Linked DNA regions of Homo sapiens: all the other regions are linked to region 1. The links come from fine-mapping of genetic effects on gene expression. A gene starts in region 1. Each other region holds a variant in brackets. All regions are shown on one strand. Distances are between the middles of the regions.

Region 1 (10,295 bases):
GAAAGAAACAGGGCTTAGAAAGGGGTTCACACACGCTAAGCACTCAGTAAACGCTAGCTGTTATTATATTGTTAGCGCTATTAACACCAGCCATTCAGAATCTAGATCCTGTAGCTTTACAGATTCACATTTAATCTTATGGGGAGATTTGGCTCAGAACAAACTGTTTCCCATTAGCCAAGCTCACAAGAGGCCAGAAAACCAAATAGTTTATTTAGAACAGGAAACTGTTTTCCAACGCTTTGTATGCATATTTGCTGTCCAAGGCATGCCCTTCTCAGGGGTGAGATACCCCACAAGATGCTATTTTTTGTATTTACAACAAAAGCAAAGGGTGGAGCTGTCGGGTGGAATAAATTTCCAGACTGTGACAAAACAAAGACATCTGATTCATCACAGAACCACCTTGATTGAGATCAGAATATCCCCAGTCACCACATATGACACCTTTCCTACTAACGGTAAGCAGGGATGGGGTTTGCCTTGTTCCCCACTGCCTGACTTACACAGTAGCTATTCAATAAATAGCTGTTCAATAAATATTTATTGAATAGTAGCTATTCAATGAATTGTTGGCCGGGTATGGTGGCTCACACCTGTAATCCCAGCCCTCTGGGAGGCCAAGGCAGGCTCAGGAGTTCGAGACCAGCCTGGGCAACATGGTGAAACTCCATCTCTACTAAAAATACAAAAACAGTTGGGTGTGGTGGTGCACACCTGTGGTCCCAGATACTCAGGAGGCTGAGGTGGGAGGATCGCTTGAGCCTGGGAGGTCAATGCTACAGTGAGACGAGATAGTGCTACTGGACTCCAGCCTGGGTGACAGAGTGAGACCCTGTCTCAAAAAAATACATATATTATATATATATTTTATATATATGTAAATATATAATATATAGTTATATATTTATATTATATATTATATATGTAAATATATAATATATAGTTATATATTTATATTATATATAATAAAAATATTTGTTAAATCAGTTAATTCTTTGGGCAGGGAAGGTTTAAACATCAACAAATTCTCATTCTTCTCCTCTTCTAGGCAAACTGATTCCCTTCTCTTTGGGGCAGGACAATATTCGCTGTATCACAGCTTTTTAAATGAGTTGTGTTCTGTTCTCCCGGATGGAGACACCCTGATGAATTGTGGGAAGTGCCCTGTTCTCATCAATAATATGTTAAAAATATTCTAGCATGCCCCTTTCCTGCTTCCCATTTACACTCTGTGTATCTGGCATTTGTACATGCTGCAAACATTAACAATGGTGATTGTTACCCCAGTGGCTCAGGGTTGGTCTCCCTCTATTGCCTACGGCACTTTGTGGCCTGGCCTCTCTGGATGGGGGTCAAGAGCCCATCACATCTTTCTCCAGGGGTGTGTGTGTGTGTGTATGTGTGTTTGGGGGGGCGGGTTCATGAAATTTAGCATTGCCTCACAATGTCAGCTTTCAGCTCCTCAAAAAACTACATGAACGAGTTGGCCATACCTGCGTACTTCCCCCTGGACTTAGCTTGATTCACTTCAAAGGACAAATCCATCTCTGAGCAATTCTCAAGGCAAAGACACTCAGCCAGACAAAAAGGAGGGTGAGCCCTCCTACCTCTTTCGGCTGACACTCAGGGGAGCTTGCCATCATCTGACTGGCTGCCAACAGGCCGGTGGACAGGGGCTGGGGTTAGACATGTGGGAAGGAAACAGTCACCTTGTTTTCCTGCCTTGGATGGAATTGGCAGAATTCCAGTTATTCCCTACCGGGGCTCTAGCTCACAGCCCCAGATAAAATGCCTAATCACGGAGCTGTATCTCTTGCCCAGCAAATGAGAATCCTAAGACTCATCACAGTAACTGTCCACTTGGAAGTGTCCAGCACCCTCCATCAGTTGATTCTCTTCAATAAAACGTGCACACTGGGTACTTCCCTGAGAAGTTTTGGGGCACCAAGAGTGGCAAGGCTTCCTGGAAAAGCCCTACAGCATCTGATTCAGATTCGTCAAATAAATTTCACCAGGGTAATCCTGAGTAGTTGAGTTCTCTCTCCCTCCTCCTCCTCCTCCCCCGTCGTATTTCCACAAGTTATAACCTGGCCTGCCTCCTTTCCAAAGCCAGAAATATGACAAATATTCAGATAAGCCGATGGAATTTGAAAGTGCATGTTCATTGCTTTGCTGGTGAGGACTGCAGGGCACACTTTAGCATGTGAGGTGTGCCTCTCTCAAAAGTGCATACAGTTCAAATTCTGCATCTAGTAACACACCAAGAACTCAGGAAATGCTTAATAACTATTTGCAGAATGAATTAATAAATCCTATTTTAATGTATTATGACAATTTCATTCTTAAAAGAACATTATGGGGAGCATTTAATGTAAAGGAATTCTCGTATCTTTAGAAAATTTTGTTTCTACGTTTAAGAGGCTTAAAGTGAGGTTAACCTTTAATTTCAAGTTCAACCTCTTTACTTTGTTTTTATATATATTTTTGAGACGGAGTCTCGCTCTGTTGCCAGGCTGGAGTGCTGTGGTGTGATCTTGGTTCACTGCAACTGCCGCCTCACGAGTTCAAGCGATTCTTCCGCCTCAGCCTCCAAGTAACTAGGACTACAGGCGCGCACCACCATGCCCAACTAATTTTTGTATTTTTAGTAGAGACGGGGTTTCACCATATTGGCCAGGCTGGTCTCGAACTCCTGACTTCATGATCCGCCCGCCTCGGCCCCTCACAGGCGTGAGCCACCATGCCCAGCCTCTTTTTTTTTTTTTTTTTTTTAATGGCAGAGTAGTGTAGTAAAAAGATCTTCAGGTTTGAAGTTAGACATATTTTTCAAACCCAGTTCTGGTATATTCCGAGATAAGAGTATGTAATTTACAGGTATTATGATGATTGAAAGAAGTAGCTAGCAATATTCCTAGCACATGGCAGGCGATGGGAATGAGAGGATGGTTGTGTCCTTTGGCCTGACCCTCCACTGTCTTGCCAAGGCTTGAGGTCCTTATAATTCTACAGTGTAGAGTCACTCGCGTGCTGCTCATTTTACAGAAGCCAAAGAAAGGAAGGAGTTTAGTCCCTTTGGCCACGTCCAGACTTAGCCTTCTCATGCCCGGACACATTTTTTAAATTGTGCTTTTCTATATTCAATGCTATTTTGGATCTTATACACCAGTGCAATGCAGAGGCCTCCCTCACAAAGCCTCTAACAGACCTGATCTTTATTAAGTGCCTTCAGTGCAACAAAAACTCTTAACAACTCATGAGGATTTCAGGGCCTCCAAACTGGCAAGCGTTTCGGGGAAATCACAGGGAAATTTGTTGGCCGCATGATTAATCCTGGGTGGATTGGTCCCGGAAAAGCACATGTGGGTTAGCAGCGAGCAGCAGCTTGCAGAATCTCACAAAATAAACTCTCTAATGAAGTGGCCCCCAAAACGTGCCTTCCTGATGAAAGTTCAGCATGAGGGTGGCGCCTGACAATGGAAAAAAATGCCAGATGTGTGGACAACAGACCTCCTTTGAATCCACTAACACCCAAAGGGATGACACATGGGACCAGATTATAAAACTGAACCAGATTATAACCCTGGAGGAGGGAAACCCAGTAGGGCGTAGGATCTTATGAAAAGGATCATAAAATTCATCACCATAATTACCCCCCAGCCCAGCTCCCCAACAAAAGCCCACAATAGCTTCGCTCAATGATGTTATTCATCCATATTCAAGTCGCCTCGCTCATTATTCTCAGACAAAAACCCTGCTGGGCCTCTGCTCCTCTGGCAGCCAGGCAACTCAGCACCCACCCTCACTCAGCCAGCCCCGCATACCACTTCTTTCTTTAGTAGTGGAGTTTCCAGCACCAACGATGGTTTTTCGGTTTTAACGCCATCTTTTAGGAGTACCTTTGACATTCAGGAGCCGGCTGAAGGGAATCACAGCTAAAGCTTCCCTGGGCAAAAACAAAGGATGTTACCCAGCAGCTTTTTCTTTAGCAGGGCTGAGATGCTGAAGTGAGGGCGCTCCCTTGCTTTGCCCTGGTGAGCACAAAACGGTGTCATTTGCACATTGTCTCGCCAAAAAGGAAATGTAACTGAAAATACAGAACTGTATATATTCCAGTGGAAAGAGAAGTTCCAAAGATAGGACTGCTACGAATAACCCACGGCCCCTATAAAAAGAGTTGCTCAGTCCCTTTGAAGCAGACAGCACAGCATAGAGCAGAACTCTGTCATTTCCCTGAGATTGGGTATTTTTGTCTGTGTGGACCATTGTAGGAGGCCAGGTTAGGCGCACCCCTCCTGCAAACCGCTCCCTCTCCAAGAAGTATTCCTCAGGGCCTAGGCCTACCTTGATCCTCAATTTTTGGAAAATGTTTACTTTTCACAGCATAACTCAGCAACCTCCAGCCCCAAAGATCACGAGTTAGGTTACAATTCCTTCAACCAACATTTAGTGAGCAACTACTATGTGCCAGGCATTGTTTTGGCCGTGGGGAATCATGGCTGGATGTAGCTGCGTCCTGCAGAACATATGTTCTATTGAGGAAATATAAAAATAAAAACCCAAGAAAAGAAAACAAAATGTTGACAGATGTCAATGGAGACCACCAACACAGCAACCCAGCGGGAAGAGGTAAGGCTCCAGGAGAGGACAAAGGGTAATGGAAGCTGTGGACGCCCCCACCCCAACATGGGATACAAAATATTTAAAGCCTAAGGAGTCACCAACAGACATTCAGCCACTGATGTTGTTGCCCAAGATGAACACGTGGCTCAAACCCACTTAAACCTCAATGTTCGTAACGCGTAACAATCCTCATGCACTCACACTCCTCGGAAGCCTCCACTTGGATCCTTTCCACACACACTATCCTCTCTAAAGAGGATAAAGGAGGCCTCTTCCAGTCCAGTGACGGGGTGCTGAGTGTGTCCAACAGGCAGGGCGCCAGACTAGGTAGTCCCAAGGGGGACCAGGGCCACCGCAGGGCGGGGAACCCTCCCCTTGGCCCAAGCCCTCCTGAACGTCCCTCCTGATTCTACGAGGCCAGCTTCTCCCGAGGCGTGCGTATTCCTCCAACACACCGCTCTATGGGAAGGAAACCCCAGCCACTGCTGCCAGCAAGCGGGGCTGCCTACTGTGAACCTTCCACCCGATCTCTCTGGTGCTGCCGACTCGGAGGGAGGCCCCCTGTGCTGCCCACCTCGCAGCCTGTGGATTCCGGGGCTCCTCCCGGCACACCCGCGCAGCTGCGTCTTTGGGACCTGGCACCGACTAAGCCGCTGCCTCTCCTCCTCCGGCGCTCAGCCGCCTGACACGCACACACCCTCAGCTCCCCCGCGCTCCCCTGGACAACCTCGAATACCAGGCCCGGGCATTCCAGCAAGTCTCTGCTCGCTCGTCCCCATCAGCGACGGCAGGAAGCCACTTGCGCTGGGTCTTACCTCCTTCTGCCAGGACCCAGAGCGACGCGCTTCCCAAAACGAAGAGCAGAGCTGACACCTTCCACATCGTTCCCGTTGAGTTGTTGCTCTCCTGGGGGCCGAGCAGCAAGATTCTGAGCTGGGGGAAAATTAAAAAGCACCGCGGCCACAGGCCCAGCCTGGAGGAGCGCGACGGTGGGGGGGCCGGAGGGGTGGGAGCAGGAGCCCCGGAGAGGGAGGGTGCCCGAGCTTCCCAGACCCTAGGCAGCCGGACAGCAAACTTTGCAGTTGAGAACTTTCCGAGCGGAGTCAGCATTTATCTCTCCCGAGGAGGCGGGGGAGCGGGGTCGGCCGCAAGGTGGTCTCCGTCCGGGCGCGCTAGGCCCGCCCTCGGGCTCTGTTTGGCCGGCGCCAAAACGATGATCTCAGGCCAGGTTTAAAGTTACAGGGCCGCAGCTGCGGGGGCCGCCAGGACTGCGGGCCCTGGCAAAATGGGCTTTTATTCTGCTCAACAACAGGAGGGAAAGGGACCACATGCAACAAACGGGGTTTTAAAAATTATATATAAATTTTAAAAAACCTATATTTATTATTATTATTTTTTTAAGAGTAAGGCACAAGTCTATGTTTTTCTTGTTATGGGCAGAAGTGAGAAGTAAACTGTTTCTTGAGTGGCCAGTAGTTTTAGAACCAAGCATGGGGTTTTTCCTGTAAATATTGAATTTGATGGCTTAAAAACAAAAAAAGTTGGCCGTCATCTGGGTGGGCCAGAGGCGGCCCGCGCTGGTCAATTGCGCCCTTGTCCCGGGGACCGGAGCGGGCGGGCTCCGGGGGGCTGCCCCAGAGCTGGCTGGTGGGGGAGTTTGGCAGACCGGGTGGCTTTGGCAGTTTTGAAAAAGAGGCTGAACTCCATCCGCCTCTGCCGACCCGGGGATCCAGCGCTGCGATGCTGTGGCCCACCGACGTGCGCAGTTGGATTAGGCCGGGCCAAGCGGTGACCCGTCTGGTCGCCAAACCTGTGTCCCCTTCCAGGCCTGGTTCACCCTCTTTATTCCTGAGTTTGCTCCCATAATCCTCACTTTACTGGTTTAAGCGATCTTGCCTTGATCTCAGGTACCAGATATCAGCAACCAGAGAACTTACGTCTTTTACTTTAATTCCTTCTGAATTGCTGGAATTTAAAAAAATAAGAACAGGAGTTTGGGAAGTGGTCTCTGCTCCACTCCCAGATGCCACAAATTCCATTCAACAAAAGAACCTGAAGACTAACGCTGTCTCAAAGCTCCACATTGCGTGAAAATTGTTTTCAGATGCTTATCTTTGACCCCTCCCCATTATAAATTTACTTTCTAAGAATCACAGGAGAGATTGTTTTAAATAAATGCCCAGTTTCCTGGGTTCCACCCCAAACTCATTAATCAGACCTTTTCGGAATTCCTATTTTAAACCAGTGTCGCTGGAGAACTTGTCCCCATGAACATTTGGCAAACCTTGCCCTTCATCATAGCTTCTCAGCCAGATCTACCTGGGGCACTGGTTATGCAGGTGCAATTCTGTTGTGGGATAGGGAGAGATTCTGCATTTCTAAAGATCTCCCAGGTAACGTCTTGTCCTGGGGCTACAAACAGGAGCTGAGCACCTGAACCTAGAAGATGAGGGGTAGCGGCAACACCCCTAGAGCCAAGGAGTTGGAAATGTAAAGAGAAAACTCGTGATACAGATACTCTTTCTTGAACTGACTTCCCCATCTTGGAGATGCATTTTATGACTCTAGTGTCAATAATGTCTGTTGACAGGAGGAATAGTGCATTGTCTGTTGAGCCTGTTAGATGGAGAATAGATGCACATCTATTCTGCTTATGTGTAACTCCAAGGTCACACACAGAAAGAAAGATGGCCCGCTTTATTCAAAAAGATTGAAACACAGTGAAGCCTAGGTGGGGGAGATTGGGTTACATGCAACTAATTTAGAGGGATGCTGAGGCTAGGTCATGATTCAAGGACACCTGCCTTCTATCCCACACCCCCGGATGTGTCTAGAATCTAGAAGGTTGGTCACATGACCTTTTGATCAGGATGGAGGAGTGGGAGGTAATAAGGAATTGCATTCAGCTGGGGGTCCTGGGGTGGGGAGAGGGGCCAGGATGAAGGAGTTAGTGGATCGGCTCTGGGTGCTGTTGGTCTGAAAACCTAGAGAGAAAAGCTGGGTCTTGGGAGGGGGAACCTGAAGACCAGAGGGAAGAAAGAACTCACCCTCCTGGACCAGATAGAGCCAGCAGCTCATGAGAGAAGGAATATGGGCCTTGGGCAGCGAGACTCGGTTAGCTAAAGGAGCTGAAGTGAAACACAGGGGATCTGGAAGCATGAGACCCTGCTCAGCTGAGGGGAAGAGGGAAAGAAGGAGGGTATGTGGCTCCATTCTTGGCAAACAGCTTAAGCTCAGAAAGCCATGGCCATGAATGATGATGCGTTACTGGTGAGATAACAGCAGCTGCTACATACTGGCCTTTATCTTCCTGCCAGGAACACGCACTATTTCCTTTCAGCCCCAAAACAACGGTTGGCTTCCAAACATTGATGATACCCATTTCCTACACAAGTGAGGTTGAGAGTGGATTCACCTGGAGGGCTTGCTTGCCTGGAAGGCAAGACTGCTGGGCTCCACTGCCAAAGTGCTGATTCAATAGGTAAGGGGTGGGGCCCAAGAATTTGCATTTCCAACAAGTTCCCAGGTGATGCTGAAGCTACTGGTCCTGGGTCCCCACTTTGAGGACTGTGGGTTTAGAGGCCACCATGCAAATTGTGTGGGATCCTACAAGGTAGGAGCGGTGGGGTCATGCATTTCCATTGCAGAGCAGGAGTTGAGCCTGTTACTAGCACTGTGCCTGTGCCTTGCAGGACTGTGTGGGAAACGTCTGTAAATTGCTTTTAGGAAGCAAGAGGACCCCCAAAAGGTGTGGACCAGCAGTGGAATGAGGAGCTGAGCCAGAGCTGCCAGTTTGGTACCTTCCACCCTGGGGGATGCTGGAGATGACACATCAGGGTCTCCTCAAGCTCTGTGTTTTTCTGAGGGCTCTGCAGAGTCCAGAGAGCACCTGGCTGAGCTGCTCCAGGCAGCCTGGGCTGACCTGGCTGGGAAGATGCTTCTCAACACACAATGGGACACCAGCCCCCCAACCCGCAGTGGTTCATACCTGTAATCCTAATGCTTTGAGAGGCAGAGGCGAGAGGATCACTTGAGGTGAGGAGTTTGAGACCAGCCTGGGCAACATAGCAAGACCCTGCTTCTATAAAAAATAAAAATAACATTAGCCAGGTGTGGTGACACGTACCTGTGATCCCAGCTACTCAGGATGCTGAGTTGGGAGAATCACTTGAGCCCAGGAGGTCAAGGCAGCAGTAAGCCATGATCATGCCACTGCATTCCTGCTGGGGTAACAGAGCTAGACCCTTACTCTATAATAATAATAATAATAACTTTAAAAATCAATATGCCATGTTCCAGAGCTGAGATACCCACAACTGAATCTCTGACAGCAAAGGCAGCTCTATGGCCCAGGAATAAGTAACACACTTACGGGTTTGAGTGGGACCAAAATTCTGATTTATAACCCAGACCGCTACAACTCTGACTGGACAGAGGACTGGCCTTACAAACATTCTCTCCTGATAAGCTACTGCACACCTCAAGCCAGTTTCAGCAGCTGAGAGAGGATGCATACGAACTGTCTTTGTGTCCTATAGTTCACATTTTGACGTAAAGAACCAAATGCCACCTCATTTTAACTAAAACCCCGCTCCGAAGTGAACATGAGATGTAAGTTACAAGCATGTTTACCCACCGTGCACGCACATGACTCCCCTCGTGTAAATGGACAGCCTTTCCTTCAAACCTGCTACATAGGAACACAGGCCCTGGAAGGCAGAAAACTCAACCTGCTGTCTTTGAAGACAGCACCTTTGGTCCAGCTGGAGACAGTCTCTTTCTCATTTGTAAACTGACATCGCCACTAATATTAGCCTTTCTAATATGAGCCATCCTGGTGGTTTTCTGGACGGCACGGGGAAAGACAGTTTCACACTGCCAACCTGGGACTAAAGAGATTTTTTTCACCCCAGGAAATGCTCCATAAGAAGATATGGGATGGATAAGAATCTGCTTTTTTTGTTTGTTTTTTTGTAAATTGGGGTTGGATTATTGGGAAGGTGCTACATTTTCCCAGAAGTTTCAGTAGAAAACTTAGGAGCCAGGGCCGTGTGTGGTGTCTCATGCCTGTAATCCCAGCACTTTGGGAGGCCAAGGCAGGCAGATCACCTGAGGTCGGGAGTTTGAGACCAGCCTGACCAACATGGAGAAACCCCATCTCTACTAAAAATACAAAATTAGCCGGGCGTGGTGGCACATGCCTGTAATCCCAGCTACTAGGGAGGCTGAGGCAGGAGAATCGCTTGAACCTGGGAGGCGGGGGTTGCGGTGAGCCGAGATGGCACCATTGCACTCCAGCCTGGGCAACAAGAGCGAAACTCTGTCTCAAAAAAAAAAAAGAAAAGAAAACTTAGGAGCCAGGGCAGTGGTTCATGCCTGTAATCCCAGCATTTTGGGAGGCCAAGGCAAGAGTATTGCTTGAGGCCAGGAGTTCAAGACCAACTTGGGCAACATAGCAAGACCCTGTCTCTACAAAATAAAAAATAAAAAATTATAAAATAGAAGAAAACTTAGGAACATTGAGGCATTGGAAATTGATCCCCTTGGACCCATCCTTGCTGGCATTCTTCTGGGGAAATCTGTGTGCATCTACCATTTGAAGGCCCCTGCCCTGTACCCCTGCGGAGCTGGATCTCCTCCCAGCAATAGGGCTGTCTCATGCCACCCCACTG
Region 2 (10,295 bases), 37 kb before region 1:
AAGAATAATTTTGTGAATATAAAAGTTGAAAACATGCACATTCATGCTACATCTTGATTATCAACAGATACGTACAAAATAAGAATAGTAGAAAATGTGCATGTTCCATACGAAACGCACCCAGTTCAGGAGAATGGTCCCTCTGGGAAAGAGGGAAGAGAGGAACTGATGTCAGGAGGGTTCCTGAGGGATAACATGAATAAGTTTTTATTTCTAAAAAAAAAATTATATGGAAAATACAAGAAAATGTTAAGATTTGCTAGTGTCAGACGGTGGGGTATAGGAGGCTTTTTCATTACTCTCTGTAGTTTTCTATATGTTTAAAATATTTTATAATTTAAAAAATAACTTCCCTGGCCAGGCGCAGTGGCTCACGCCTGTAATCCCAGCACTTTGGGAGGCCGAGGCGGGCAGATCACGAGGTCAGGAGATCGAGACCATCCTGGCTAACACGGTGAAAACCTGTCTCTACTAAAAACACAAAAAAATTAGCCGAGCGTGGTGGCGGGCGCCTGTAGTCCCAGCTACTCGGGAGGCTGAGGCAGGAGAATGGCAAGAACCCGGGAGGCAGAACTTGCAGCGAGCTGAGATCATGCCACTGCACTCCAGCCTGGGCGACAGAGCGAGACTCCATCTCAATAAATAAAGAAAGAACTTCCCTATTCCCCACTGGCTGCAGAAATGATGTCTTTGAAATGCACAACTGTTGAGCTGATGGGGAGACAACTGATTTTAAAGATAACAAGTGGGGCCGGGCGCAATGGTTCGCGCTTGTAATCCCAGCACTTTGGGAGGCTGAGGCGGGTGGATCACCTGAGGTCAGGAGTTCAAGACCAGCCTGGCCAACATGGTGAAACCCCATCTCTACTAAAAACACAAAATTAGCCGGGCCTGGTGGCGTATACCTGTAATCCCAGCTACTCAGGAGACTGAGGCATGAGAATTGCTTGAACCCGGGAGGCGGAGGTTGCAATGAGCCGAGATTGCTCCACTGCACTCCAGCCTGGGCAAAAAGAGCGAAACTCTGTCTCAAAAAAAAAAAAGAAAAAAGAAAAAAGAAAAGAAAAGAAAAGGACAAGTGGACTAAACAAAAGAGGGATGGAGAACAAATAAAGACACCTGCATCCTGGTTGTACTTCGGGCATTGGGTAACTCTAGTTTTACGTAACTCTTTGAATCTCAATTTCTTCACTTGTAAATTGGAAATAATTTCTGCCCTGCCTGCTTCACAGGGATGATATAAGAGTAACTGACTATAATAATAGAAGTAAGAAGTGGTTGTTGGAATAATTGTGTTAATTACAGAATAGTCTCTGTGTTTTCATACAGGCATTAAGCATTCATTATTTACTTTAAAGCTGATAAAAACTTTGTGATATGAGTATTATTTTTCACACCTTTTCAGGCGTTCATCTTCCCATAGCTACCCCTGTCAACAAGGAACGGACAATGACTTGCGGGGGCAGAGTGGGTATCTGCAGTAAGCAGTGACCTGGGGCCTGGCACAGGAAGCTCTGGCCAACAGAGGCCATGGTGACCAGCCAGGCCAACCCGATTTCCTTAGACATCAGAAGTCCCGGAAATGTAGAGTGAATCAGTCTGCTGGTAGCCAAGGCTAAAGCTGAGAGAATACACAAAGAGAGGCCATGGAGGCAGGGTGGGGCCTTAAGAGTCCATGTGCGATTTAAGGGGTGAATCAGTGGACATTACCAATAAGCAGAAACCAGGAAGTAGAGAATAGATGCTCAGAGCAGAAAATAAATCATTGGTTGGTAGTGGTAGGAATCACAAAGGGAAGAAACGTGAAGGGCTAGATCACCCTAATATTGGCCACCAACACATGCCCATGTGGTTTTATCAGTCAGGGTGCCAGCAGGAAACACATGGCACCCTCAAAAGAGTGATGGCAGAGAGTTGGATGAAGGAACTGTTTGCCAGTGGCAACACAGGGTTAAGGAAACCAAAAAGGGACGGTGAAGCACCTGAAGGTTAGTGATCGTAAGAAGCCCTTAGCATCCATAGGTTTAAAGACACAAAAAGAGGAGTTTGTTCCTGGAACCTGGTGAGACTTATGGTAAAAGCAAAGGGCCACCCAACAGGAGCTGGGGTTTTTGGTAGAAAAACACAATGACTGGACCAGGCGTGGTGGCTCAGGCCTATAATCCCAGCACTTTGGGAGGCCGAGGCGGGTGGATCACTTGAGGCCAGGAGTTTGAGACCAGCCTGGCCAACATGGCGAAACCCCGTCTCTACTAAAATTACAAAAAATTAGCCAGGCATAGTGGTGTGCGCCTGTAATCCCAGCTACTCGGGAGGCTGAGGCAGGAGAATTGCTTGAACCCAGGAAGTGGAGGCTGCAGTGAGCCGAGATCGTGCCACTGTACTCCAGCCTGGGTGACAGAGTGAGACTCTGTCTCAAAAAAGAAAAACACAATGACTGGCAGCATGTGGCCTTGCAGAGAAGAAGCCGGAAGAATAAATACTTCAGCCTGTCTCTTCTGTTGCCCTTGGATCACCTCTCAGTGCCTTCCATTGGCCAAACCCAACCAGAACCTTGAGAGCAAGAGAGCTTGGTTGATGTAGTCTATTCAAGTCAACCTCTCAGGTCACAGAGTCAGGGGAAGAAAAGTGGAGAATAGACTCACCAGGGCACAGGAAAACTGTCCAGAACAGTGGTAGAGGTGTCAAGATAATCCAGAGTCCAGTGCTGTGTAGAAAACTCTCAGTTCCTGTAGGCTGAGCTATGTGGTTGCTTGGGGGTTCCCGTAGGATTTATTTCCCATGTTTTCACATGGGAATGTGTATATATGTAACACATAACATTGCATAAAGATGCTTTCTTTCTGAGTCTTGGTTCCTTTAAATCAAGAGTGCGATGACGTAAAAACGTTAAGCAATTTCCTCCACACTGGAAGTAGGACAGCCTGGAACCAAAGCTGCAATAGCCAGGGTCTAGAGCCATGCTCTTTTCACTTGACTACAGTGGAGGTACAAATGTGATATCAGCCCCATGATAAAGTATAGAAGCTGCCGGCGCCTACGGCCATACCATTCTGGATGCGTCTCAGAAGCTAAGCAGGGTCAGACCTGGCTGGTACTTGGATGGGAGTATATCAGCCACTGGGTGCTGTGGTGCATGCTTGTGGTCACAGCTGCTCAGGACCCCGAGGTGGGAGGATTGCTTGAGTCCAGGAGTTTGATCAAATCCAGCCTGGGCAACATAGCAAGACCCTATCTCTTAAGGGAAAAAAAAAGTGTAGAAGCCCTTGACCATCAAGTTATTTTGTAGGAAATCACTGGATCACTTTTAGAATGTGGTGACATGTGCAAACAAAAAAAGTACATTTTAGGAAGATCCCATTGGTAGAATGCAGATCAGATTGGAGGAGGGGATGTGGGCATGTAAGTTTGCAATTGTGATGAGATTTTGCTTGAGGATCTGAATTAGGAGGCTGATGGCGCACATGTAAAGGGGGAGGCACTGTTCACTTGTTATGTGCCAGTTACTGCTGCAGGGACCAAGGATGTAGCCGAGAACCAAACAGATGCCTGCTCTTCTGGAGCTTATGCCATTTGAAGCTCTAAGAATAGATGAGTTCTCCAAGGGAAAGACCATAGAGAAGCAAAAAGTAAGCCTGAAGCATGCCTGTGAGCAAAGAGGGGGAAGTGAAGAAAAGAGCCAGTGGAACAGCTTGCAGAGAACCAGGAAGGGCAACCAATAAGGGAGCATGTCATGCAGGCCAAGCGAGAGAAGACGGCTTCAAGAAGGGGACCAAAAACAGGGCTGATGGCTGCAGAGGATGAATGAAGACAAGACCAAGAAGAGGGCCTGGAATTGACATACAGGAGGTCATTCGGAAGCTTGATCAGAGCAACTCAGTGCAGCGGATGGATGCTAAACTGAGAGGTCAGTAGGAACCATTATAGTTGGGACTTACAATAGAAGTGCTGTCTAGGGAAGAGAGTTGGACGCCCAGCATGCAGGAGGATTTTGATGTGGTCATCATTCTGGCCTGAAGATTTATAGTTTTAAAATCCTAGTTGCATAACAGTAACCGGGGTTGAGCAGGTCCTAGGACCTAACTCATGCCAATCAACTCATAAGAAACTGATTATAACCCCAAATGTCAAGTTAGTAATTTTCAACTAATAATATTTTCCAGTGGTGGGAATATTTGTGTCCATTATCCAGGACACCCTCGTTCCAGTATTAAGCTACTTGGGGAGCTGGATTTTTTAATTTATTTATTATTATTATTATTATTATTTTTTTTTTTGAAATGGAATCTCGCTCTGTCGCCCAGGCTGGAGTGCAGTGGCGCGATCTTGGCTCACTGCAACCTCTGCCTCCTGGGTTCAAGTGCTTCTCCTGCCTCAGCCTCCCGAGTAGCTGGGACTACAGACGCCTGCCACCACGCCCGGCTAATTTTTTTTGTATTTTTAGAAGAGACAGGGTTTCACCGTGTTAGCCAGGATGGTCTCGATTTCCTGACCTCGTGATCTGCCCGCCTTGGCCTCCCAAAGTGCTGGGATTACAGGCGTGAGCCACCGTGCCCGGCCGGAAGCTGGATTTTTAATCAGAAGACTGTGAGATGGTACGGAAGAGAACAACAGGAATGGCTAATCCTGAAATGTATTTCATCCAATCCATGGTGGGAGACTCCTTTGGTGATCTCTCTGCATATCCCTGACTCTTAACCTTGAGGTACACCAAAGCTCAGTTCTTGGACTTGCCTTTCTCTATTTATACTCTGCCCATGGTGAGCTCATCAGCATCATGGTTGTTAGGTTCTAGCAAGTCCCAAATTATGTCTCCAGTCAACTCTCATTTAAACTCTAGACTCATGTGCCCAACTGCCTGCTTCATACCCCCAGCTGGATATCTGTACTCAGCTCAAATTCTGCATGTTCAACACAGAACTCCAACTCTGCCCTATCAAGCCTGCAGCATCCACAGCCTTGCCCTATTAACTGATAGCAACTCCATTATCCTAGTTGCCCAAGTCAAAATCCTTAGTGTCACCTTGACCCTCCCATTTTTCTCATATCCCACATCCAATCTATCAGATAATTCTGTTGACTTCATTCAAATTATCACTAGAACCAGACCACCTTAAACCACGTCCACTGCTATCATCCTGGTCTGAACTGCCATCATCTCTTGCTTGGATTCTCACACTGGCCAGTTCCCAACCAGAGGTGAGGATTTTTTTTTTTTAATGTAAGTCAGATCATGTCACTCCTCTGCTCAAAAGCTTCCCATGGCTCCCCATTTCCAAGGGCACTCCACCTCTCTGACGTCATCTCCTACCATGGTCCCCTGCGCTGACTGCTCCAGCCTTCTGAGCTTCCCTGCATTCCCTAAAACATGCCAAGGGTGCTCCTGCCTCAGACCTTTGCTATGCCCTTTGCCCAGAATACTTTTCCCTCAGGTACCCATCAGGATCACTCCTCGCCGTGCCACTTCAGGAACATGGCTTGACTCTCAGAGAGGCCTTCTCCCACCCCAGACTCCATGCTGCAGCTCCTCCAAACTTGAACTTCCTCTCCTTGCTGTGTTTTTCTCCATTGTCTCTCATTTTCACACTCTTATGATTTACTTATTTTTTTTTTGCAGTCTCCAGCATTAGAATGTAAGCTCTATGTGAGCAGGAATTTTTGTTGGTTTCATGCACTATGGATTCCCAGCACCTGGGACGGGCCTGAACATAAATATTTGAATGAATAAATAAATGAAGGAACAGATTACTCCTGTCCCATGAGAGTTCTTCAGCAGTTATACCCAAGGGAGTGTCTTTTGTTTCTGGATCTTGCTGGACAAGAATCCTACTCCCTTTCCAGTGAGCCCTGGGCCATCCACAGATCCAGCCTCACCTACAGATGCTCTGTGGAAGGGTGGGAACAGGAGCAACAGGAAGGGGTCCACCTCCTGCTTCGGTCAGGACACCTGCACACCTTCCTGAGGTTACATGCGGAGGACCGTAAGCTCATTTATTCAAACAAATATTTCAGACGACCTCTTTGACTACTTCAGCAGCATCCAGAGGGAAGCCGTCACTTCAGAAACATTTGCTGATCGCCCTGGTATGTGACCAGCACGTGATTGTTTTCTCAAAAATTTGCATCAGTGGAAAGGCAGAGGCAGCAGTAGAGAAGGAGGTAGGAAAGAAAAAATGGGAGGAGGAGCAAGGTCTCAGAACCACGCATAGGACTGTCTGTACTATGGCC[C/T]GGAGCCCTTGGATGTAGAAATAGAACACGCTGTGCTTTGAGTCAGCATCTGATAAAATAATCTCAGAGTAAGAAACAGTGCTGAGGAATAGTGTTTAGTGCTTTCAGGCTGGCTTTGCCTGTACCAGGTACGTACCTGCATGCTGGGCCCCTGAGCCAAAAAAACTCCCATTCACACCAGTGAGTGTGATTTTAGACTCATTCTGCATTGTTGACCAATAACCACACTTACATCATTTATATTTACTGAGTTGAAAAATCCAGGATCTATTATATGTTCTAACCCGATTTTAAGCTTCAGGAAGAGCAAAGAAAAAGGCAATGTTTCAGGGAACAAGTCCTCCAGCGCACACAAGGGGATGACTCTATTTTTAGTGCATGTGTTAACATGCAGCTATATTTTGGGGAGGATTCTTTTTCCACTTCCAATGGACTTTTAATTGGCAAAAGTTTTAATATCAAAACGTGCACCATTCCCCAATCGAAGCATGTCACAAACTGCCCCATGCCCTGAATACTAAATAAATCTGAATTAAAATAAAAATAGAGACAGCAAAGGGATTAACAGTTCCTTGCTCTTTCCTATTCATGAAAGCCAAGCCTTGAAGGTGGCCCATGAAGCAGAACTAAGCCCTGGTTTTTCAACTGGTTTTCCCAGGTTGAGGGGAAAAAGTAGGGGTTAAAAACAAGGCCTTTATATCATGCAAAGAGCTAACCTCAGCACCCCCTGCTCCCAGATGTCTCTGATAGAGCTGTTTCCCTAAACTTTCAGAACCCTGGCAGCTCCCCCAGTTTCCAGTCATCTCCTGGGGGTGGCATGTAATGGAATGTAAATTTACATGTAACATAGTTGAGGGTCCGTTCTCTTTCAATCTGTTGGACTAGGTAGACGTGGTTAGTTTCCTGCTAGAAAAGGGATGCTTTCTGACATCTCATGAAAGTTCTTAGAAGAAACTGCAGCCCAAAGAAGTTAAATGACTTCCCTGAAGGGTTACAGGTGTGGAGGAGCAGAACAGGACTAGAACCCTGGTCCATTTTTTAAGAGATGGGGCTCTCACTTTGTTGCCCAGGCTGGCCTTGAACTCCTGGCTTAAACGATCCTCCCACCTCAGCCTCCCAAACAGCTGGAACTACAGGCATACAATATGGTTCCTTGTTTGGAACTCAAATGGGCACCCAGGATTACTGACAACGGACAAATTCAACAGTCCTAATTTAACAATATTGAATATTTATTTCGAGGAAGTCATGGGGCTAACTGCTCTCCCGCTCCTAGCACCTGATCCTTACGCTGGCAGGGAAGGGACCCGCATCAGGAGGATAAATCCACATGGAGTGGTGCGGTGGGGTCGGGAGGAGGAGATCTGCAGCACCCACCCAGGAGCTGGCCAGGGCAATCTCCAGACAGAGTCGGGGTGAGCAAGGAACCGTGGGGCGTCCCCCAGCAACAGGGATTCACCTCTCCTGAGGTGAGGTTTCTAGGGAGGACTAGCAGGGGCAAGATGAAATTGCCCCCTCACCTGGTTTTACCCTCCAGTGCTGAGAAATTAATCAGGTGGCTGGGCACAGTGGCTCACACCTGTAATCCCAGCACTTTCGGAGGCCGAGGCAGGGAGAGATCACGAGGTCAGGAGATCAAGACCATCCTGGCCAATGTGGTGAAACCCCGTCTCTACTAAAAATACAAAAATTAGGTGGGTGTGGTGGTGCACGCCTATAGTCCCAGCTACTTGGGAGGCTGAGACAGAATTGCTTGGGCCCAGGAAGTGGAGGCTGCAGTGAGCCGAGATCGCGCCACTGCACTCCAGCCTGGGCGACAGAGCGAGACTCCATCTCAAAACAAAACAGAAAAAATCAGGGAAAACCTCATTAACCCTTTGGGACCAGAGAGGGAGAGAGCCCCCAGGTGCCACGTGTCTCCCATGCCCATGCTTCTACTTGACCTCTCTACTTTGGCAGACCTAGCTGAAAGGTGTAGGTGTGTTTTCCTCCTGTGGAATTCATTCCCCTGGCCATCTATAATCCACTCTCAAGCAAGGCAACAGGCAGGCATTTACCTAAGTTGTAATCTTATCTGGAGATGTTCCCAAGTGTGGCCCAGACTTGTGTTTTCCAACAAAAGTCTGACTCATTGTTGTACACAATCATTTGTTTTATTTGAAAACATGTCTACACTGCATTGAGCACCAACACAGGTGTGACCAAGAAACCCACAGTCCTGTCCCCGCAGGCACTGGGTCCAGTGTATGACTTGGGGTGGACTGTTATTTTTCACAGTGAGGGGGGAAGAAAGGATAGGAAAGAAAAGATGGCCATTATCCCAACTCCTGTTCAGGAATCTGAACAATGAGTTATTTAAACTCATCCAGCTCTTCTCATTCCCCTTCTCTCAATCAGCTGGTGTTCAAATATGGAATCTGAGGCCGAGCGCAGTGGCACACGCCTGTAATCCCAGCACTTTGGGAGGCCGAGGCGGGCAGATCACGAGGTCAAGAGATAGAGATCATCCTCGCCGATACGGTGAAACCCCATCTCTACTAAAAATACAAAAATTGGCCGGGTGTGGTGGTAGGAACCTGTAGTCCCAGCTACTCAGGAGGCTGAGGCAGGAGAATTGCTTTTTGACATCCTGACACATGTATAATTGCCGGGAGGCAGAGTTGCAGACTACGTTTCACACACACACACAAAAAAAATGGAATCTGAGCTGGTGGGGCCAGCTGGATTTGGGAACACACAGACACACTGTTTAAAATAACATCCAGACATCATTGCAAAAAATGGGAGGAATGGGCTGTGCTTCCGAATGATAGTTTACTTTTTCCTGTTTTATGAATGCTTACAAATTTAGAGGATACCAGAATTGCACAACCGCCATCATGACAGAGCATCTGCTCAGTGTAAAAACTTTGTTTAGGAAAAAAAAAAAAAAATCCAATGGATATATGGGAAGAGAAGTGCCAGGCTGGATGGTGCTGAGACAGAATGACCCCTTGGGCTCCTTTATTTTGTTCTTTTCAACAGGACCCCACAGATATTTGCGGTATGTCATGAGGACTGGGGATGTCTTCTATTTTTAAATCAGGTATTTAGTCAAGCTGCTTTTAATATTAAGACTGTACAAATTGATTTTTGTTCCCTGTATCTTTCCTCAGAGGCAGAAAGTGAATGTTATAAAACTGGCAGATTTTATTTCTCATACCAGAGGCTCACACAGGATTTCTTTCTGCATGGGGGACAACTGGCTCTTGGTTTCAAACACACTTGAGCCTCTAGCACCATTAAGCATCCAGCAGCTTCCTCGGCATCCAGGCTGAGATATCCATATTCCAGAACAAAGCAGCCAATGTGAAGGATGTGCATCACTGGGAAGAGAGAAGGCTGCCCCCTTAGCCCTGGCTCCTCATCATCTGAGGGAAGTGGAGGGGGCAGGTGGGAGCAAGCTTAGAGTCACCAAGTCATGGCTGGAGAAGGATTTGGGTAAAGCAACTCTAGAGGCTGCCTGGTGGCCTACTTGGGAGAAACAAAGTGCCTTTGAGACTATCGACTTCCTGCTTGTGATCTAAAATGGATGTCTTTGAAATGATTAATCTGGACCAGCTAAAGGCAGTTGTTCACCACGTGTTATCCAAGTTTAGATTTCCTAGTTGATTATTCACACCAGATCAGGCTTTAAAAGATAGACCAAACTAGACCAGAATGTGTACATTTCAGCAGATCAGCAATTGCAAAATGCTGGTGCTATTTACTGACGTAGCACTGGATCCAAGGACTCCGTGGATATAAATATTTCCAGATTCCTCTGCATTTTAACAATAACAAGAATGGTCAGACGGAGACACATGGTTACAGCATATAATATCGATCCAATGGTCCAGTGTTAGTTACAAATCAGTTTATACAGTTTTGCTCCATTTTCTATGAATTTTGTCTTTCAAATAATCTTTTATAGAATGTATATTCAAAAACATGTTTGAACAGCAAATGTTTAGAGGAGCCAAGTCTGGTGAACGGTCTTTCCTTCGGTTATTTTGGCAAGCGGAGAGGTCACCGTGGATTCTGAGTGG
Region 3 (10,295 bases), 19 kb before region 1:
AGTAGGGACAAACTGCATTAAGAATAAAAAAACCCTTTCCCGCCTTTGTTCGGTGTGCTCTTGTGACAACCAGTCCTGCGAGAAACAACCTTCTACAGAAATAAATTGGCCTTGGTGAAAAATCTTTTGTTTAAGTGTTCGTTTTCTCTGCGACTCTGAGCTTTACTTCCAACAGATGTGGGGGTGAGATTACTTTAGGCTGTTTGAGATGGCATCAAACTTGAGAATTATAAGGAAAAGTCAGCCATGGAAAGATCTGGGCAGTGTTCTAGGCAGAGAAAACCAAAGCCTAAGTTGGAACAAGCTTAGTGTGTTCAAAGGTCAGAAAGGCCAAGATGGCAGAAAAAGAGAAAGTTAAGGAGATGCTGGTGTACAGGTCAGATAGGCAGGCAGGAACCTCCGTTCTGTTACCAAAGAAATCATAGATTCCCTCAAAGGTCGAGGATGTGGCTCATTGACCTCCTCAATCCCTCCCAATGCCTGGCACCTTCTCTTGTCTATGGTAGGTATGTAACACATATGAGGAGTTAATTAAAATTCATCAGGTTAAGAATGTGTTGGTCGAGAGGCTAAATAGTCTATCATCTTGTGGTCTGTGGACTGATTCTAGTCCTGTTTATTACCAGTCTATAGTGAGAAAACAAATTGAGACTGACTGACTTATTTATTTATTTATTTTTTGAGGCGGAGTTTCACTCTCGTTGCCCAGGCTGGAGTGCAGTGGTGCGATCTCGGCTCACTGCAACCTCCACCTCCCGGGTTCAAGCTATTCTCCTGTCTCAGCCTCCCGAGCAGCTGGGATCACAGGTGCACACAGCCACGCCCAGCTAATTTTTGTATTTTTAATAGAGACAAGGTTTCATCATCTTGGTCAGGCTGATCTCGAACTCCTGACCTCAGGTGATCCACCTGCCTCAGCCTCCCAAAGTGCTGGGATTACAGGTGTGAGCCACCACGCCCGGCTGAGAAGATATATTTAGAACCCTTTATAGCAATGACATTGCCACAACACCCAAGAAAACTTTCATTGTATTGAAAGTTGGGCTGTAACAGATTGGAAATGTAAAATCCTGGCTCCTTTTACCAATTTGAGAAGCTCTGGCTTCTACTCTCCAACCACCTGTGATCAGCACACCAGCTAAGTGGACGAAATTGGGAAAGACAGTAACTCCTCACTTAACGTTGTTGATAGATTCTTGGAAACTGCGACTTTAAGGAAAATGACATGCAGCAGGTCCTCACATAATGTTGGTTCTTTCTAAGTCATTTTGCTTCAAGTCACAGTTTCCAAGAACCTATCAACAACATTAAGTGAGGACTTATTCTTCTTTGTTGAGCCACGTAACTATTCCTTGGTATGGTGGCTCATGCTGATTTTATAGATAGATATATTTTTATATAAAGTAAATTAATATACATCATAGCCTTGCATGTGATCACATGCCTACGGAAAAAATTCCTCTCTTCCCAGGACACTGACCAGAGTTGTCAAGCCAGACTTATAGCGGTCTTCGCTGGTTCCTGGAGTCACCACATCATCTTCGGCACCTGGCATGGCAACGCCGCCTTCCAAACCTGTAGTCTCAGTGTCATCTTCTGGCTGGCCTGTGCTGGCTGAAGAAGAAAGATTGAGTCAGAGCTTAAGGTGGAAATTGCATAAGCAGACCCAACTTGTCGGCTACATTCGGATTATTTTCTTTTCCATTTCTTTTGGAAATTTTTGTTTTATTTTTGGTCCTTTTTGTGGCTTACTGTGGTGCCAGAAACCAAACCATTCTCCTTGCAGCACTTCTGACACATCAACACCCTGGTTATCTCCGTTGCAAAGCAAAGGAAAATGAAAACATTAAAAGGTAGAGCAGCCAGCCCCTCCCTGGGGCCCCATCGAGGTGGCCTGGACAGGGGACGTACATCTTTCCTTTTCAATAAGGAACCAGATTCTTCCTGGTGTCATTTCATATGATGAATTAATATATTCATCTGGACCTAAAAACTCTAAATTAGAGTCAACAGGAAAGATTTCTAAACACACCCCTTTGCAGACCCGATGCAAAAGCGGGGTCTCCATCTTTTTATTTTTTTATTTTTTTCTCTACCTTTTCAAATTAATTTTTCTTAAGAGACAGGCTCTCCCTCTGTTGCTGAGGCTAGAGTACAGAGGCACAATCATAGCTCACTATAACCTCAAACTCCTGGGCTCAAGCGATCCTCCCGTCTCAGTCTCCAAAGTAGCGGGGACTACAAGTGCTCACCACCACACCCAACTTCCATCTTTTTAAAAGCAAACTCTCTCTCCATTTAATTTTAAGACTGCTGTTCACTTGGACAATTAGAACCACAGGCTCTGACCACAGACCTCGTAGATTACATGGAGTTTTACCTCTTACTTTACAGTTGAGATTACTGTCTACAGGGGAGGGTCAGTAATATGCTTAGGGATGCCAAGACACCAACAGAACACTTAGTACACCAAGAGCCAAACTAGCTGGGTGCAGTGGTTCACGCCTGTAATCCCAACACTTTGAGAGGCCAAGGTGGGTGGATCATTTGAGGTCAGGAATTTGAGGTCAGGAATTTGAGACCAGCCTGGCCAACACGGTGAAACTCTGTCTCTACTAAAAATACAAAAATTAGCCTGGTGTGGTGGTGGGCACCTATAATCCTAGCTACTCAGGAGGCTGAGGCAGGAAAATTGCTTGAATCCAGGAAGCAGGGGTTACAGTAAGCTGAGATCGCATCACTGCACTCCAGCCGAAACCCAATCTCCAAAAAAAAAAGAGCCAAACTAATGAACTGCCCTTGGCCCTGGCTTTTCCGCATTAACATTTGGACAAATGATGTGTCATGCCAATGAGAAAGGTTTCTGGGCCAGGTGTGGTGGCTCACGCCTGTAACCCCAGCACTTTAGGAGGCCAAGGCGGGCGGATCAGAAGGTCAAGAGATCGAGACCATCCTGGCCAACGTGGTGAAATCCCATCTCTACTAAAAATACAAAAATTAGCTGGGCATGGGGTTGCATGCCTGTAGTCCCAGCTACTTGGGAGGCTGAGGCAGGAGAATCGCTTGAACATGGGAGGTGGGGGTTGCAGTGAGCCAAGATCACACCACTGCACTCCAACCTGGTGACAGAGCAGGACTCCGTCTCAAAGAAAAAAAAAGGTTTCTGCTGGAGCAGGGAATTGGAGTGGACTACCAGGCTGAATTCTACAATGAGAGATAGAGCAGATAACAGCAGTATCCTCTTCTTCAACTTCTGTTGCAGTGACCCAAACTAGTCATGACCATGCTCAATTATCATCTCCAAAAATCACCAAACAACCCTCTTTGTGCATTAAAAATGTGACTCACTGGCCATGGGCTTCTTCCCTAAACTCCAGTGGTTCTGGAAATTCCATGACTAAATACAGTTGCAAAATAAACAAGCATACACATCCCAGGAGCGAGGGGGAGGGAGGTGCTTGGAAATTTCTTTGTGTAATGAAAGAGCAGATGTTTGTTTGTCTCTAGGCAGCACTTACATTAGCAATCCATTCCTTGCCTTAAGATACCTTATTCTCCCCACTGCTTAGACAGCACTTATATCAGCAATCCATTCCTTGCCTTAAGATACCTTATTCTCCCCACTGCTTAGACAGCCCAGCCAGAGGCACAGCTAATAAATATTTGATTATAGCTTCTTTGATGCCTAGAGGAAGCCTCTGAAGTTAGTTCACTTGTTCTATGAGCCTGCTCTTTTATTCTAGAGTCCTAATCCAGTAGAGATGGCTTTGGATGAGCTACCTACACATTTTTTTAATCTGGGGGTGTACAGCGAGGGGTTTACCAGTTAGCAATAACCGAATATTTCCATGCATGCAAATGGTTTGCCTCTCCATGTGGCCTTTTGCTGGAGTAGGGGTAGAGGTGAGGGTTGGTGATTGGCTCCTACAAAAATGTATGACTTGTGGTGTAGGCAAACGCTTACTGTGTATTTATTGAGCTCAATGGGAAATATCCCTTTGCCAGACAAGTAGTCCTTATTAAAAAACTTACTAAGCTTCCCATTTTATTTCTTCCTCACCTGGTTTGAACTTAGTTAACAAATCATCAATTTTAAAAACGTTTTCTGGAGCGGTTTAGTACAATCACTTACTTATTTGGTGTATCTAACTTAAAACAATCCTTGCTTTAAAAAAAAAAAATCAAGTGCTCAATGAAATTAGATTGAATTCTTTCATAGAAAGCTCAGTTCATTGAAAGCGTAACTTTATAAAAATTCCTTCTTGTTCTTTTCTACCCTTGGCCCACAGAGCCAAGTACTAAAATCGCTCTGAATGGACAAAAGGCGTTTTATGAATGATAG[TCAGG/G]ATTAAGATGCATGTCTTTTGTCTCACCGCCCTAGCATTCTTTTTGCTCCATGGGAAAGCTGAACTTTAACAAGAGATCCCCAATTGTCCCTCTTAGTATCTTGGCTGAAGGATTCCCTGGGTGAAGAGTTCCTACTAGGCCAGCTGCCGAGTTTCCAGCCAGCATCTCATGTCTTTTCCCCTTCCTCCTGAAATTCAAATCATGGATGCCTTCACTTTCCAATCCTCTTTTCCCCAAGACATATGTATGCACAGGCATACATATGCACGCACACACGCATACACACACACATACAGGGATGCACATATGTGCAGACACACAATTGTTTCTACAAGTGTAGAGTGACGAATTTGCCATCATAAACCAATACCCACAACCTAGCTTGCAGGTTCAGTTCTGGAGTGGTGTACCAGCGTGCTCACATAAACACCCTTTCCTGCCACACCCAGCCTCAGCCAAACACGGCTCAGTGGAAGTTTCCAAATGCGGCAGCAAACGATCCACTTACTTTGAAATTTGTTGTTGTTGTGATTATTTTAAAAAAGCTAGGCAGGGCTGGGCGCGGTGGCTCACACCTATAATCCCAGCACTTTGGGAGGTGGAGGTGGGTGGATCACGAGGTCAGGAGTTCAAGACCAGCCTGGCCAAGATGGTGAAACCCCGTCTCTACTAAAAATACAAAAATTAGCCTGGCACAGTGGCAGGTGCCTGTAACCCCAACTACTCGGGAGGCTGAGGCAGGAGAATCACTTGAACTCGGGGGGCGGAGGTTGCAGGGAGCTGAGATCATGCCACTGCACTCCAGCCTGAGTGGCAAAGTGAGACTCTGTCTTAAAAAAAAAAAAAAAGCTAGGCTGAAGTTTCTATTTCCTAGGAGAAGATGATTTGATAAATCAACTGTCACTTGGGGTTCTTAATTTTTGAGAACAAATAAACGTAAGCAATGCTTATTTATATGAAATCACTAACTATGAATAACTTTTATCTTTGCATTCATGTCTAATAACTCGCTAGATTGCACACATTACAGGATGGCATTTCTTTTGTCTTTTCTTTGAGATGGAGTTTCACTCTTGTCACCCAGGCTGGAGTGCAATGGTACAATTTCGGCTCACTACAACCTCCGCCTCCTGGGTTCAAGCGATTCTCCTGTCTCAGCCTCCCAAGTAGCTGGGATTACAGGTGTGCACCACCACGCCCAGCTAATTTTTATATTTTTAGTAGAGATGGCATTTCACCATGTTGGCCAGGCTAGTCTCGAACTCCTGACCTCAGGTGATCCGCCTGCCTTGGCCTCCCAAAGTGGGCATTTCTTTTTTAAACAGAATTTCTTTCTTTCTATCTCTCTCTGTTTTTTTCTCTCTCTCTCCTTTGTATTTATAGAGATGACATCTCATTTTATTTTTATATATATATATATATTTGTAGAGACAAGGTCTCACTACATTGCCCAGGCTGCTCTTAAACTCCTGGGTTCAAGCAGTCCTCCCACCTCAGCCTTGCAAAGTGCTGGGATCACAGGCATGAGCCACTGTGCCCAGCCTGCCATTTCTTTAAAAATACTTTAGAGTTGGCCAGGCACGGTGGCTCACGCCTGTAATCCCAGCACTTTCGGAGGCTGAGACGGGTGGATCACCTGAGTCAGGAGTTCAAGATCAGCCTGGCCAACATGGTGAGACCCCGTCTCTACTGAAAATACAAAAAAAAAAATTAGCCAGGCATGGTGGTGCACACCTGTAATCCCAGCTACTGGGGAGGCTGAGGCGGGAGAATCACTTGAACCCAGGAGGCAGAGATTGCAGTGAGCCGAGACTGAACCATTGCACTCCAGCCTGGGAGACAAAAAAAAGAAGTACTTTTGAGTTTAGATGTAACATTCAATCAGGCTGTTATTGTAATAGTCCAAATTCTTAATAAAAATCTTTTAAATAAGTGATTTCAGTCTTCTGGTTTTATTTACACTTCTTTGATTTGTGGAGCGAGTTGTTTCATCCATTTGTCTTCTTTTGTGACCGTTTTTGTAATGGTCACATGGCATTCCCTCTTATAAGCACTGTTCATACCTTAAGAATGTATTCTTTGGCCTAAATGCTGCTGGCATTTTTTTTTTTTGAGACGGAGTCTTGCTCTGTCGCCCAGGCTGGAGTACAGTGGCACGATCTCGGCTCACGGCAAGCTCTGCCTCCTGGGCTCACGCCATTCTCCTGCCTCAGCCTCCCAAGTAGCTGGGACTACAGGTGCCCACCACCACACCCGGCTAATTTTTTTGTATTTTTTAGTAGAGACAGGGTTTCACCATGTTAGCCAGGATGGTCTCAATCTCCTGACCTTGTGATCCACCCGCCTCGGCCTCCCGAAGTGCTGAGCCACCCAAAGTGCTGAGCCACCCAAAGGCATGAGCCACCCAAAGGCATGAGCCACCCAAAGGCATGAGCCACCCAAAGGCATGAGCCACCCAAAGGCATGAGCCACCGCACCCGGCCTACATCTTTCTTTTGCAAATGACCAAGCTATCAGTAGTCAAACTTCTTAAACTTGTTTTCTCTTTGACATCACACTCACAAACTCTTCCTCAAGATCACATAAATATTCACCTATGTTTTCCTTATGGTATTGTACTTACGTTTAATATTTTTGTCTGTTTATTTTGAAGTATTATAATAAAAGAGAAATATAATTTCCCCCCAAAAGATTAGCCAATCACCCTGATAAATCCTCTTTTCCCCACTGCTTCAAAACCAGCTGTCATTGAGACAAATCTTTTCTTTCCAATACTATGTCATGGCTGGGTGCAGTGGCTCAGGCCTGTAATCCCAGCACTTTGGTAGGCCAAGGCAGGCAGATCACCTGAGGCCAGGAGTTTGAGACCATCCTGACCAACATGGCAAAATGCTGTCCCTACTAAAAATACAAAAATTAAGTAGGCAGGATAGCACATGCCTGCAGTCCCAGCTACTCAGGAGGCTGAGGCAGGAGAATCGTTTGAACCCAGGAGGCAGACGTTGCAGGGAGCCAAGATTGTGCCACTGCACTGCAGCCTGGGTGACAGAGCAAGACATGGTCCCAAAACAAACAAATACTATGTCACAGTTACAGGAGAAACTTAGCACAAGGCCCAGCTTAAGTGGCCTGGACACTGCCAACTATCCCCACTCCACATGGGCCCTCTGTCTGCAGAGTCTCCAGAAGCTGTTTCTAAATCCGTGCTCTCTTCACTGTAAGCTCCCTCTTCCTCCTCACATCAGCTGACAGCTGCTGAGTTAAATCAGTGACCAGGGAGTAGCTAGAATAAAACTCAGTGTTTAGGGCAAGGAGGAAAAGTAAGTATTCAAACAGGTGCATTTGGGGTCGTTCAAGATCTGGCACTGACGCAGCATTGTAAATTCCACTTAACGTGGAAGACACCTCATTGTCCTAACACCCTCTCACATTTGCTACTCACAATGTAGGGTTTACATGGCGTCTCCCAGCTGACTTTATTTCACAACAGCGCTGTGGTGGCTAGGCCCTTAGCCTGCCTTCACAAAGAATCTTGTTAGGCCAGTTTAGCAAGAGTCCCCCCAACCCCATCTCTTAGGAATTTTCCACCCACTGATCCCCTCATTCTGCTTGTGGGCTACAAATCCCCACTTTTCCTTTCACCCAGAGGTGAACCTGAGCTCTCCTCCCTACTGCAATGCCCCTTATTACAGGGGTCTTGACTAAAGTCTTCCGTACAATTTCAACAAGTGTCAGAATTAGTGTTTCTTTAACAAGGTCGGAAGTTAAGTGATGTGGCCCAACGCGGTGGCTCACGTCTATAATCCCAGCACTTTGGGAGGCCAAGGCAGGTGGATGACCTGAGGTCGGGAGTTCAAGACCAGCCTGGCCAACGTGGTGAAACACCTTCTCTACTAAAAGTACAAAAATTAGCTGGCCATGGTGGCGCAGGCCTGTAGTCCCAGCTACTTGGGAGGCTGAGGCAGGAGAATCGCTTGAACCGAGGCAGAGGCTGTAGTGAGCTGAGATTGTGCCATTGCACTCCAGCCTGGGTGACAAGAGTGAATCTCCATCTCAAAAAAAAAAAAAGAGTTAAGTGATGTGCCAAGTTCATGATTCATTAGCGGACACAAAGCCAAATATTCTAACCGCATCCCTGGACTCACCAACATACAACTAAAAAGCAGCTGTGCATTTTCGTGATGTGCTCTCCCGGCAGCTTTGGGCTAAAATGCCTGCTGCCTCCCTCCCTGGGTTCTGAGATCCTTCCCCTTCTGCCCAGGTGCCATCCTCATCTTCCCAGAAATCACGTTCCTGGTAGTCAGGAACAATTGCTTCCCCTGGTACCTCACTGCCTCTTATGAAATCCCATCTTGTTAGAATCTTCCAGTCTTATTTAATGACCACAGTCTTGACCTCCTCCAGTGTGTCCCCTTACTAGGAGAAATCTGGACGAATCTAAACTTTCAGCAATGGCAGGTTAGAAGGAAGGTATGACTCACTCTAAAGGAGGTGTTGCTTTGAGCAGCAGCAGCCCTCTCCCCGCTTAACTGTGCAAGTTAAGGCAGCAGCAAAAACCAAGACTGAAGCCTGCATGAGTTCACCTCTACAGCCCCAGCTCCCAGCATTTATATTCCTTCCACAAATATTTACCAAGCACCTGCCAAGAGCTGGGCCACATTCTCATCACTAGAGACAGAGAAGTGAATAGGTAAGGAAGATCTCCACTCTTAAGGACTAGAGTACTCTTGGAGTGGGGTGGGGTCACCATAAAAAAATAAGCAACACATCAGATAAGCTATTAATCCCAGCACTTTGGGAGGCCAAGGTAGACGGATCACTTGAGGTCGGGAGTTTGAACCCAGCCTAGCCAACATGGTGAAACCGTCTCTACTAAAAATACAAACATTAGCCAGGCGTGATGGTGGGCCTCTGTAATCCCAGCTACTCAGGAGGCTGAGGCACAAGAATCACTTGAACCCAGGAGGTGGAGGTTGCAGTGAGCTGAGATTGCGCCACTGCACTTCAGCCTGGGTGACAGAGCAAGGCTCTGTCTGAAAAAAAAAAAAAAAAAAAAAAAAAAAAAAGATAGCTTCTCGAACACATCAAGATAGCTTCCCTCATGCCTTCAGATCTCAGGGAACTTTCTGGCCGGGCATGGTGGCTTACGCCTGTAATCCCACCAGCACTTTGGGAGGCTGATGCAGGTGGATCACACGGTCAGGAGATCGAGACCATCCTGGCCAACATGGTGAAAACTCGTCTCTACTAAAATACAAAAAATTAGCCAGGCGTGGTGGTGCACACCTGTAGTCCCAGCTACTCAGGAGGCAGAGGCAGGGGAATCCCTTGAACCCTGGAGGCGGAGGTTGCAGTGAGCCAAGATTGCGCCACTACACTCCAGGCTAGTGACAGAGCGAGACTCCATCTCCAAAAAAAAAAAAAAAAAGGAGGGGGGGCACTTTCTTGGACTGTCCATTTAAGCGAGTACCCCTCCCCTCTTCCACGGCACATATACCTGAATGCTTACCCCCACCCTGCTACCTGCTCGCTACTTGTCTGTCCTACTGGAATATAAGCTTGATAAAGGCTGCCTCATCTCAATGTCCACAATGTCTGAAATCCCTGGCACATACCAGGCACTCGGTAAGTAGCTGTTGAGTGAATGGGTGAGTTCCAGATAGGGGAACAGCTGGTGCTAACTAACCCCAAAGCCCAGAACGAGCATGGGGCGCTGCACGGGAGGGAGGATGGTCAGTGTGGCCAGGTGGAGGGGCTGAGGAGGACAGAGATGGGGCTGAGAGGTGTGGAGCGGTGGTTCGGTAGAACTGTTTTAAGGATGGGGTTTCAGTTGCATTTGGCGTGTGAAGGGAAGCCAGGAGATGTTGAGGAGGGGATGACCTCAGTTGAGTCCCAGAGGCCACTCTAAGTCAAGTAAGTGAATAGTGTGTGTGTATCAGGGAAGGTGC

Which allele goes with the higher level. Alleles are on the strand shown, and positions count from the first base shown. SD is a standard deviation of normalised expression in the study named.
With allele C in place of T in region 2, the expression in skeletal muscle of the gene that starts at base 5,707 in region 1 is higher (small effect, 0.31 SD a copy in GTEx).
For the expression in cerebellum of the gene that starts at base 5,707 in region 1, G is the high allele of the variant in region 3 and TCAGG is the other (small effect, 0.27 SD a copy in GTEx).

Evidence for each region.
Region 2: its variant is fine-mapped to the expression of PDPN in skeletal muscle (GTEx, PIP above 0.99). The same link has a PIP of 0.9 or more in breast, esophagus muscle, fibroblasts, gastroesophageal junction, sigmoid colon and subcutaneous fat.
Region 3: its variant is fine-mapped to the expression of PDPN in cerebellum (GTEx, PIP above 0.99).

What each region holds. Positions count from the first base shown.
Region 1 is chr1:13,579,244-13,589,538 of GRCh38, reverse strand. It overlaps PDPN (podoplanin), which reads right to left and starts at 5,707. Exons shown (of 6, transcript NM_006474.5): 1 at 5,439-5,707. The coding sequence starts at 5,505. RefSeq lists an enhancer at 5,266-5,804.
Region 2 is chr1:13,616,025-13,626,319 of GRCh38, reverse strand. PDPN (podoplanin) reads right to left here. Exons shown (of 6, transcript NM_006474.5): 6 at 8,363-10,295. It also overlaps the pseudogene RNA5SP41. Among named protein-coding and RNA genes, the nearest start is that of PDPN, 37 kb to the right of the region's middle. The variant C/T (reference allele first, on the strand shown) is at 6,229.
Region 3 is chr1:13,598,492-13,608,786 of GRCh38, reverse strand. It overlaps PDPN (podoplanin), which reads right to left. Exons shown (of 6, transcript NM_006474.5): 2 at 1,481-1,614. Among named protein-coding and RNA genes, the nearest start is that of PDPN, 20 kb to the right of the region's middle. The variant TCAGG/G (reference allele first, on the strand shown) is at 4,343.